3 linked regions of the Homo sapiens genome follow. The protein of the gene in region 3 purifies or fractionates together with the protein of the main gene of each other region. This does not show direct contact. Each region holds a gene or a part of one and is shown on either strand. Other genes may lie near its edges. The genes, in order: RPF2, ZCRB1 and MAK16.

The links.
Region 1: the proteins of MAK16 (region 3) and RPF2 purify together in Homo sapiens (affinity purification with mass spectrometry; 2 studies listed by BioGRID and IntAct, with this or other methods). This does not show direct contact.
Region 2: the proteins of MAK16 (region 3) and ZCRB1 purify together in Homo sapiens (affinity purification with mass spectrometry; 2 studies listed by BioGRID and IntAct, with this or other methods). This does not show direct contact.

Annotation. Positions count from the first base shown.
Region 1 is NC_000006.12:110,980,478-110,984,305, forward strand, and holds the start of RPF2 (ribosome production factor 2 homolog), read left to right. Parts: upstream 1-1,560; 5' UTR 1,561-1,629; coding exon 1,630-1,652; intron 1,653-3,828. UniProt on the Homo sapiens protein: Involved in ribosomal large subunit assembly. May regulate the localization of the 5S RNP/5S ribonucleoprotein particle to the nucleolus.
Region 2 is NC_000012.12:42,324,459-42,328,058, reverse strand, and holds the start of ZCRB1 (zinc finger CCHC-type and RNA-binding motif-containing protein 1), read left to right. Parts: upstream 1-1,964; 5' UTR 1,965-2,135; intron 2,136-3,600.
Region 3 is NC_000008.11:33,494,954-33,498,781, forward strand, and holds part of MAK16 (protein MAK16 homolog), read left to right. Parts: intron 1-588; coding exon 589-663; intron 664-1,671; coding exon 1,672-1,788; intron 1,789-2,278; coding exon 2,279-2,344; intron 2,345-3,478; coding exon 3,479-3,676; 3' UTR 3,677-3,828.

The sequences.
Region 1 (3,828 bases), on a different chromosome or scaffold from region 3:
CAGAAACAAAACAAAGCAAAGCAAAACAAAACAAAAAAACACAAAGCAGCATAATCCATAATAGCCAAAAAATAGGAACCATTCAAATGTACATAAGCTGCCGGGTACAGTAGCTCACGCCTGTATTCCTAGCACTTTGAGAGGCCAAGGCGGGTGGATTACCTGAGCTCAGAAGTTCAAGACCAGCCTGGCCAACATGGTGAAACCCTGTCTCTACTAAAAAATACAAAAGTTAGCAAGGTGTGGTGGTGCGTGCATGTAATCCCAGCTACTTGGGAGGCTGAGGCAGAACTGCTTGAACCCGGGAGGTGGACGGCGCAGTAAGCCAAGATCGCACCACTGCACTTCAGCCCTGGCGACAGAGCAAGACTATGTCTAAAATAAAAAAAGTACCTAGGTTGATAAATGGATAAACAAAATGTGGTATATCCATACAAAGGAATATTATTCAGTCCTAACAAAATGGAAGTACTGATCCACGCTACATGTATGAACCTCAAAAAGATAGTGAAAGAAGTCAAACACAAAAGGCCATACGTTGCACGAAACCATTTATATATGTTCAGAATAGGCAAATCCATTGAACATAAAGTAGATTATTGGTTGCCAAGGGCTGGCAGGAGGGGGAAGTGGGGCATGGACTGCTACTGGGTGTGTGTGTCAGGGGGGTTCTTTTTGAGGTGATTAAATATTCTGGAATTAGTGGTGATATTTGCACATCTTTGTGAATACACCAAAAATCACTGAATTGTACACTGTAAAGGGGTACATTTTATGGTATGTGAAGTATATGGTAACTTAAAAACTGGGGAAAAATCACGAACAGCAGTACATTTTCTGCGCATCTTTTATGTACTAGGCAACTGTGGTAGTCATAAATTCTGTCACACAGATCGCATAGTTGTCAATAGTGCCCCTTTCACATCAATGTTTTTAGTGCTTATGTGAGTACCTACCGTGCAATCAATCAACCTTTCTAGCATCCTGGGATTCCTTGAAGAATAAAATCTGGTTTCTGAATACCTGACTCCAGGTATGCACACTAGCGCGTACATCAAACTGCGAGGGTCTATGTTATTTTATTTTATTTTTATTTTATTTTTGAGACGAAGTCTCGCTCTGTCACCCAGGCTGGAGTGCAGTGGCGCGATCTCCGCTCACTGCAACCTCCGCCTCCCGGGTTCAAGCAGTTCTCCCTGCCTCAGCCTCCCGAGTAGCTGGGGTTAGAGGCGCCCGCCACCACGCCCGGCTAATTTTTGTATTTTTAGTAGAGACGGGGTTTCGCCATGTTGGCCAGGCTGGTCTCGAACTCCTGTTATCAGGTAATCCGCCCGCCTGGGCCTCCCAAAATCCTGGGATTACAGGCGTGAGCCACCACGCCCGGCCAGTGTTACTTAAAAGTATTACCTCGCACCTGTAACTCCAGGAAAGAGCCGGGGCAAAAATCCGTAACCAAGACAACAGGGCGCGATTCCAATCAAGATGGCCGCCAGCGCCTCTAGACGCCCTCTACGAGGCCGTCCCCGGAAGTGGCGTTACGCGCAGCTTCCGGTTCCGCCTGTTCCGGCGCACGTAATCGCCGAGGGCACGTGCATGCCCCCTGGTTAAGAGTTGCAGGTAGCGGTAGCGATGGACACTCTGGATCGAGTAGTGTAAGTGCGCTGGGTCTCAGCCCCGGGGAGCGTTGGGGTGAAAGGGTCCCGTGATGAGGGTGGTACTGTCTCGGCCTCTCACTCTTCCTGGTTACCCCTCTAATTACCTGGGTGGGGGCCGATCGATCACCAGCCCGGGTCCTCCTCAGCGCGAGCTGCTTGCCAGGAGACAGTGGGGAAGCTCTCAAGTGGGAGCCGTGGGATGGGAGGGATGTGGGATTGAAGCGTTGGCCGCTTTTATCCTAGCCAGTTGAAAAACGTCTGACTTCCGAAGTATGAGACAGATGGTATAGTGGGGTTAGGAGCACAGCCCTCGGAATCCGACAGATCTGAGTGACAGTCTGGCGCGTCCACTTAAAGCTTTGTGACTTTGGGTCATTAAATATCTCTAAATCTTAGCTTATTCTGTAAAATAGCGCTCACCATAGTCATACTTCATAGAGCTGTGAGGGTTAGTTTCGAGAATGTATGTAGAGCCTTTGCTGCAGCACGTAGAAATGTTCATTAGTTTTTTCTTTTCCTTCCAACTTTGTACACTCCTCTGAGTTATCCTTGAATGATACCTGTTTTAAATTTGTTCAAGAATATTTGGGCTAAACAGCCCTGCTGTTACTTGCTGTGATTTTCTTGCTATTTACCTAAGTTAACATGTATCCAAAACGACAGTTTTAGTCATTCAGAGATTTTGCACACCTGCTATGCCTCTAGCTGTTTGGACTACAAAGAGTAGTTTACTAGGTATTGGGACTAGTTCACACGTTAATTGGGAGCAGGCAGCTAATAAAACATGTTAATTGCTATTTGCATTTGTTGCTGTTTAATGAGATACAAAAGATAGAATAATTTGTATCTTTATCAACCAGTAAATGATCAGAAGCTTTATATGTGACATTATATCTGGAGGAGTATTTTAAAAATCTACATGGGAAACTTAAGTGTATGTATGGTCTCTTTTTCTTCCCAAAGTGTCCATGGGACTGGACGAGGGAGGGTCATAATTATTTGGGAGGAAGAATTCTTTCAGTAGATGGCAGAGAACTGTCTGAAAAGCAAGGTGCTCATTGTAGAGGAAGCAGAGGTGAAGCCCCTCTTTTGAACAGAAGTGTGTAAAAACATGCCACTCCTACTGTCACATCATAAAGTCAGAATAATGAATTTATTTTCCCTTCATATTTTACAGGGTAATTGGTCTAGACGAATTTTTAAATCTAGCTTTAAAAAATTTGTTTTTTTTTGAGACAGGGTATCACTCTGTCACCCAGGCTGGAGTGCAGTAGCCCCATCACAGCTCACTGCAGCCTCGACCTCCCTGGGATCAAGCAGTCCTCCTACCTCAGCCTGCTGAGTAGCTGGGACTATAGGCGCACACCACCACAGCTAATTTTTGTATTTTTTGTAGAGACAGGGTTTTGCATTGTTGCCCAGGCTGGTCTCGAACTTCTGGGCTCAGTGATCCATCCACCTTGGCCTCCTAGAGTGTTTTTATTACAGGCTGTGGGCCACCTCCCAGCCCTAGCTCATTTTAAAAATTGGCCTGTTTACTTGCTGTGTGATCTTGGGCACATTACCTGTCTGTTCAATTGCCTCATCTGTAAAGTGAAGATAAGAATTGTAACTCGCGCGTGGAGGCTCACGCCTGTAATCCCAGCACTTTGGGAGGCTGAGGCGGGGGGGTGGGTCACGAGGTCAGGAGATCGAGACCATCCTGGCTAACACGGTGAAACCTCGTCTGTACTAAAAATACAAAAAATTAGCCGGGCGTCGTGGCGGGCGCCTGTAGTCCCAGCTACTCGGGAGGCTGAGGCAGGAGAATGGCGTGAACCTGGGAGACGGAGCTTGCAGTGAGCCGAGATCGCACCACTGCACTCCAGCCTGGGCGACAGAGCGAGACTCTGTCTCAAAAAAATAAATAAATAAATAAATAAGAATTGTAACTCTCAGGATTGTGGTGAAGATTAAGCCTTAATAGAGTGACTCCATGTAAACATCAGCCTTATTATTCCCCATTGTTGGCAATAATACTGGCATTCTCAGCAATGATGTTGGAGTGCAACAGTGTATACTTCCTGGCAGGCATTGTGGTCTTAAACCTAAAAGAAAAATAAGCAGTCGTTAGTCTTATGTTTAGTAAATGTCCACAGGTTGATCAGCAGTTGATGCTCAATTCTTTGTATTA
Region 2 (3,600 bases), on a different chromosome or scaffold from region 3:
GAGACTTGTGTTTGACCCACTTTTTTTTTTTTAATAAAATTCTATTCCACTGACAACATTTAAAAACTGGGAGAGGATGCTTTTTAAAAAATGGTATTTCCAACTTTTTTTGAAAAAATTAGATGTTCTGGCAAAACTGGGATCATATTCTCACATAGCCACAATCAGCTGTAGCTGAGTGGCAGGTGACCCCTTCTAAGGGTGAAGTATTCATTAACGTTAACTGCCTGATCTCTGCAGCATACCTTCAGCACCTGCAATCATTCAAGAAATAACTGACTGTCTTATGTGCCAAGAACTGTATTAGCTACTGGAGTTACAAAGATAAACGAGACAAACACAGTCCCTCACCGACAGTCTCGCTTAGTAGGGATGGCAAAGAAGCAATTAAGATACATGTGATAAATGCCGTGAGGGAAGTGCAGGACAGCTAAGAGTACATAGCAAAAATACCTAACTCTATGGAAGTTAGGGTATACCCCTCAAGTAAAGTGACAGCTAAACTCAGATCTTTAATAGAAGTTATCCAGAAAAAGATAGGAGGAAACAGGGAGCTCAAATGTCCCAGAGAGAGAAAAGAGCCTTTGTGAAGATACTGAGGGAAGAAAGTATTCTGAGGAATTGAAATCCGTTCAACATGGCTACAGCCATGCCCAACCTTTAAATGCAGGGTCAGAGAAAGGGCTCAACTGAAATGGCTGGCAGGAAAATCTACGTGTTATCAATAGTTAAGGTTAGGAGATGAAGGAGAATTTCACTAAAGAAGTTGAATATGTAAAATAGTTTAAGCAGGAAATAGAGGTTTCAGAAAGCACAGATGGGGTGTTGAGGGGTTAAATGGGGAAGAAACGAAGAAGCAGTGATAGCCTAAGTCGAAAGAAAGCACAAAGCAGCATGGAAATGAGACTATAGCACAGAAGACCACAGAAGCTTACATCTTGGGCGGTAACCAAGGATAACAGAGATGTAAAGCATGGTAAGTTTGGCTGGCCACAAGTATGCCTAGAGAATTAGTGCCAGCGGTCTCCTGTCGGCCACGGAGGCATTCAGGCCTCTCAAAATTCAGCTGCGCCCTGGATGGATTGTACTTCCGTCTCTATAGAAGACATCGGCTTCACTCTGGATTGATTGTGCAGGCTCCAGGAGAGGCTGTGGGTTCCAGGCTGCTGGAACGCAGGCTCCCAGGGAGTGGTTAGAGGCCTGGTCTGTATGTGCTGGTAGGCAGAAGTATAAATTACCTTGCATTACGTTCTGATTTTTCTGTAGGAATGGTGGGCATGTTATGGCCTCTTAGAGAAAAAGCAGTGCGTAGCCATTATAGATTTACAGGAAGAGAAAAGGTGCCAAGAAGATCAACACTTGTCCATACCCATACTAAAGATGAGTCATTCTGTGAATCCAACTCTCCCCAAGTTGACCTCGTCTCCCCAACTAGACTGAGATCTTCACCAGAAAACAAAACAAAACAAAACATAAAAGGTCTGTTTATTTTGTAGTTCCCAAAGTGCCTAATAGCTGGGTACCGTGAACACCTTCAGTAAAATTACCGACTTCCTGACTCCTCTCGGGTCACTGAAGTTACCTAGCTCAGTCGTCTTCTTGCATATTAAGGCGCTACAGAGAGGCGAACCCCTATCTTAGACTCAATACTTCCCTTTATTCCAAACTCCACTGCGTCTCTCCACCCTCAACCGCATGGGCAGAATTGTCACACAATTCAAAGGCAGGAGAATCCAGGACCCGACACAGAAAACTCCCGCCCACTCCCCCCCGTTTAGCAGCCCGCACACGCTCTGCATCCATCTCTGGGAAAGGTAAAAAGCGCTCACCGACTCTGGCCCTCCGGGAGACCCCGTAAATGCAGCCGTCCGCTCGCCGCCGTTATCCCAGGTAGGTACTTCCGGCGCGCGCAATGACGTTAGCGAAGCGCTCGCCTCTGGGCCCGCCTTCGGGGCCCGGATCTCAAACAGTCGGGAAGAAGCACCGTGGCTGCTATTATCTGCTCTCCGCGCCTGACCCCTCCCAGGACTCGTGATGCCAAGGCCGCTGCGAGCGGCTACGAAGAGTCGGGGTTGAGCCCCAGCTGAGCCGAGGGCTCGCACTCTTCTGGTCTCCCAGGCCCAACCCACCTGAAGGTAAACGCCTCCTCAGCTGCGGCCTTCTCTCCTGCGGGGCCCCCTCCCCAGACTCGGCTGCCAAAACGCTCTGCCCCTCTCTCCCGCCACCCTTTTTATTCCAGGACCTTAACCTCTGCCTGCCTTCGCGGCTCTCAGCAGAACGTGTAACGCATAGTTTCAAATGAGAAACTTAAAAAGCGACGTATCTATGTTGAGTTCCTGAAGTTTTCTAAATAATTCCCCCATAACACCAAACATGAGGCAGTTTTCTCATTCCTTCACGAATTGGCATGCCATAGAGTCAGTATTTTTCCATTTGTGATGGTTGATCTTCCCATCTCAAATACACACCGCACGCTCTTTTTAAATCAGAAATTTGAATTTGGTTGAGCCTGATATTTTCACGGTAATTTGCTGACTTTGTAAGATAAGATGTGAAAATTACTGATTACATTTGTAAACTTTATATACATATACACACATACCTACAGGTCTGTCTCTTCGAGGCACCAAGCCTATTTATATAATGTATCATTTCATAATTTGGCAATAAGCAAAATTAGCGTTTCGAAAGAAGTTTATATTGTCGATACATAAAGCTTAAATTTACTCCTTAACATCATACTAAAAGGGGAAAAGAAAATTTTCCTCTTAACACACCACTCCAGAGAAAAAAAATATTAAGACAAGCAAAAAAGGTACCCAGCCATAGTACAGGCATGCACAGCATAACAACTTTTTGATTAACAACAAACCACATATACCACAGTGGTCTCCTAAGAGTGTAATACATTGTACCATATTTTTAGTGTACGTTTTCTGTGTTTAGCTATGTAAATATTTACCATTGTGTTTCAACTGTCTACATTATTCACTACATTAACATGCTGTACAGGTTGTAGCCTAGGAGCAATAGGCTAGACCATCTAGGTTTGTCTCAGTACACCCTGTGATGTCTGCACTGTGAAATCACGTAACACTCAGAACATACCTCCTTCATTAAGCATAGCATGACTGTGTATTAGCAAAAATCAGTGGCTAAGGTTCTGTCTGAGTCCCCATGCTCTTTCTGACCTGGGTGAGCAAGGTGCAGGTAATGTACATATACAGTACATATTCAATAGAGCATTTTTTTTGCTCATGGTCTGAGTGGAAGTTAGGAGTAGCCTCAGGGTTTTTCCTTCATCTGTTCAAAACCCGTCTCCCTACCCATACAATCTGGCACTGAAAGTGTTGGTATAAAGAATACTTGAAAGAAGAAGAACCAAAAAAGAATTTTTTTTAAGTGGTGACTGGGAAAAAGGAATTCCTTAATTCAGCCTGCTGGAGTCATTGTTCCTAACTTCCTAAAATGTAAGGAAGGTGTACACATCTGGCATAATTAAATCGGTGATTGTTAATACTTTATTGGTTTTTGTTTTTTGTTTTTTTCCAAATAATACCCAGACTGGTCTGATGTATTGGTTTTATTTGGAATTAATAA
Region 3 (3,828 bases):
GTGCCCCTACACAGTTTTACGTAATCATTCTAACATAACTTACAGATATAACACTTTAAAACCCTCTATGACTTTCACTATCAAATTAATGCACCATCCTGGGCTATTGTGTGGTAGTACAGGTTGATGTCATGTGTCATCTCCAATGAGAGATCACTGGAGGAAGAGATTTTTACCTATTCTGTCACATGGAATCTAGCATGATTTTAGAAAATGTAAACGAATGAAGATTTCTGTTCTCTTTTCTCAGCTTTTACAAAGTCTGGCTCCAGAGTTGCTAGATTATTTCTGAGACACTTAAATGTATATAGACTTACATGCTTTGTATCTATCAAAGCCTGTGTTAGAATTTAATTTAGAATGTTGTTTACAAAACCATAGGAATTTCAAAATGGAAATGTTCCCAAGGAAGTTTACAAGAGAAAGAAGAAGAAATCTATCTCGTTGGAAAGGCAAAAGCCAGTATTAGCAAGGAGGGGAAATAATTACATTGTCTTTCTTATAAACAACTTGGTAGTTTCTTCCATTTTTATAAGATGAGTAATGAGCACTGATGAATTAAACAGATTTGCTCTTTCCCCCTTATAGGAAAAGGCATTAATAGCTGCTCAGCTGGACAATGCCATTGAGAAGGAATTACTGGAGAGACTGAAACAAGATACGGTGAGAAAGCCATTAGCTTTGGGGTACTGAAATTTTAAGTGGTAGTATGTTGCTAAGACATATTGGGAATTTTTTTTTTTTTTTTTTTTTTTTTTTTTTTTTTTTTTTTTTTTTTTTTGAGATGGAGTCTTGCTTTGTTGCCCAGGTTAGAGTGCAGTGGTGCAATCTCGGCTCACTGCAACCTCTGCCTCCCAAGTTCAAGCAATTCTCCTGCCTCAGCCTCCTGAGTAGTTGGGATTACAGGCACCACCACTGCACCCAGCTAATTTTTGTATTTTTAGTAGAGACAGGGTTTCACCATCTTGGCCAGGCTGGTCTTGAACTCCTGACCTCGTGAGCCACTGTGCCTGGCTGGGAAATGTTTTTTAACATGATATGAAGATCTCCACTCGAATTTTATCCCTGGAATAAAATAAATCCATATCGGCCTGGCTTCCTTGCTTTAATTAATGCAAGCACATAAAATGCTTTGGTTACCCTTGATACTCCATTCACTATAAGAGACCTTTCCCTTTTTGCCATTATTCTCAGCTCCATTCCCCAAGACAACAATTCCAGATTTCTGTATAAAAGCCATGGGGTTTTGCTTCTCCTGCATATTACCCTAGTCTTTTAAGGCTCTTTGAAATAAGTTTTTATTCTCTTTTTAAAAATTAGTGTTGTTTATACAGACAACATGACTAAAGTATGCTTTTTCCTTATTATTTCCCCTTGTCAGCAAAATGACATTTGTCCCAATGCATGGGTTTTGTAGACTATTACATTTTAAATTATTTTAAAATGTAACTCCATAGAAGTTACCTATTTGATACTAACTGCAGATGATTTAAATGTTCAAAAGAACATGCTTTTTTAAGACACTGCTGGCTCTACACTTAAAAATATTACTCATCAAATTAAGTATTCTGATTTAATCACTGAGGAAAAAGTAATATTCTCCACAGAAAGTGGAACTTCAAGTGTAATATCCAAATGTAGTTAAAGCCAATCTGTGTTTATGTTCTTCAGTATGGCGACATCTACAACTTCCCCATTCATGCCTTCGACAAAGCCCTGGAACAACAGGAGGCAGAGAGTGACTCTTCAGATACTGAGGAAAAAGATGATGATGATGATGATGAGGAAGTAAGTCTTGTTTTTGTTTTGCCAAACCTACTAGATACCATTTGTATAAAACTGAGAAACAGAATATCATCTTCAGTCCGCTAACCAAAAATGATATGTCTTCTTTTTTCTTTCATGTGATTAATTTTGGTTTAGCACTGGTTGCTCTGTTCTTCAGGCTAACCAACAAACCATTAACAATTTTAGTCTTAATTTATTGGTCTTCTAAAATTGTTCCTGCAAGGTGACAAATTATAAAGCCTTTCCTGTCTATATGTAGTTTTTAACCATAATGAGGATGTTTTATTGCTAATAATTTAAATCAAGAATAAGAATGATCTGGTAGCCCTAAAATTTTTAAAATTCAGAAGCATTAAATTTAGAAAGAACTAAATTTTCATTGCCTAGTGAAAAGACTGTGGTTCTCATTATGTTATTTTGTACTTACTTAGATGTCTAATCTGAATCTTCATTATGTATTCTGAACCTAACAGTTATGTTTTATTTATAGGATGTGGGGAAAAGAGAATTTGTCGAAGATGGTGAGGTAGATGAGAGTGACATAAGTGATTTTGAGGTGAGCTTTATGGGTAAAAAGATTGTCCTTTGGCCTGCAGCAAAAAAAAAAAAAAAACAAAAACAGGGAGGTGGCCAGGCACCGTGGTTCACTCCTATAATTGCAGCACTTTGGGAGGCCAAAATGGGAGGATTGTTTGAGCTCAGGAGTTCGAGACCAGCCTGAAGAACATAGTGAGACCTCATCTCTAATAAAAAAAAAAATTTTTTTTTTTAGATGAAGTTTCGCTCTGTAGCTCAGGCTAGAGTGCCATAGTGCAATCTGGGCTCATCGCAGCCTCAGCCTCCCGGGTTCAAGCGATTCTCCTCCTTCAGCCTCCCAAGTAGCTGGAATTACAGGCATGTGCCACTCCACCCGGCTAATTTTTTGTATTTTTAGTAGACACGGGGTTTCACCATGTTGGCCAGGCTGGTCTAGAACTCCAGACCTCTGGTAATCCGCCTGCCTCAGTCTCCCAAAGTGCTAAGATTAGAGGCATGAGTCACAGGGCCTGGCCTAAAATTTTTTAAAAATCATGACCAGGCGTGGTGGCTCACGCCTATAATCCTAGCACTTTGGGAGGCCGAGGTGGGCGGATCACATGAGGTCAGGAGTTCGAGACCAGCCTGGCCAACATAGCAAAACCCCGTGTCTACTAAAAATACAAAAATTAGCTAGGTATGGTGGTGCATGCCTGTAATCCCTGCTACTTGGGAGGCTGAGGCAGAAGAATCGCTTGAACCTAGGAGATGGAGGTTGCAGTGAGCTGAGAGCGCACCACTACACTCCAGCCTGGGCAACAGAGCGAGACTCCGTCTCCAAAAAAAAAAAAAAAAAAAATTAAAATTCAGCTGGATGTGGTGGCGGTTGCCTGTAGTCCCAGCTACTCAGGAAGCTGAGGTGGGAGGATTGTTGACTACAGCAGTTTGAGGCTGCAGTGAGCCATGACTATGCCACTGCACTCCTGCTTGGGCAACAGAGCAAGACCCCGTCTCAAAAAAAAAAAAAAAAAAAAATTAAAGAAAGGGACAATTTCTGAACACAGACATAGACAAATCAATGCCCTAGTCTGTTCTAGATTGAGGGGACAAGGAAGGGAGTTTGGAGAAATCTAGTGTTTTCCCTCTTCCTTTATCTTTTCTCTCCCCGTAATAGGATATGGATAAACTGGATGCCAGCAGTGATGAAGATCAGGATGGTAAATCCTCCAGTGAGGAGGAGGAAGAAAAGGCCCTTAGTGCGAAACACAAAGGCAAAATGCCCTTGAGAGGACCACTGCAGAGAAAACGAGCCTATGTGGAAATAGAATACGAGCAGGAGACAGAGCCCGTGGCCAAAGCCAAAACCACGTGATTTCCCTTTCAGCATTTATACCCAGGACTGAACATGCAGAACTGTTTTTTTTTTTTTTTTATCTTAAACACATACACACCTCCAGTTTTTGCTCTTTTGTGTTGTACTGAACACAATATTTGTGTTTTTATTATTTATGCCACGTCAGTGGG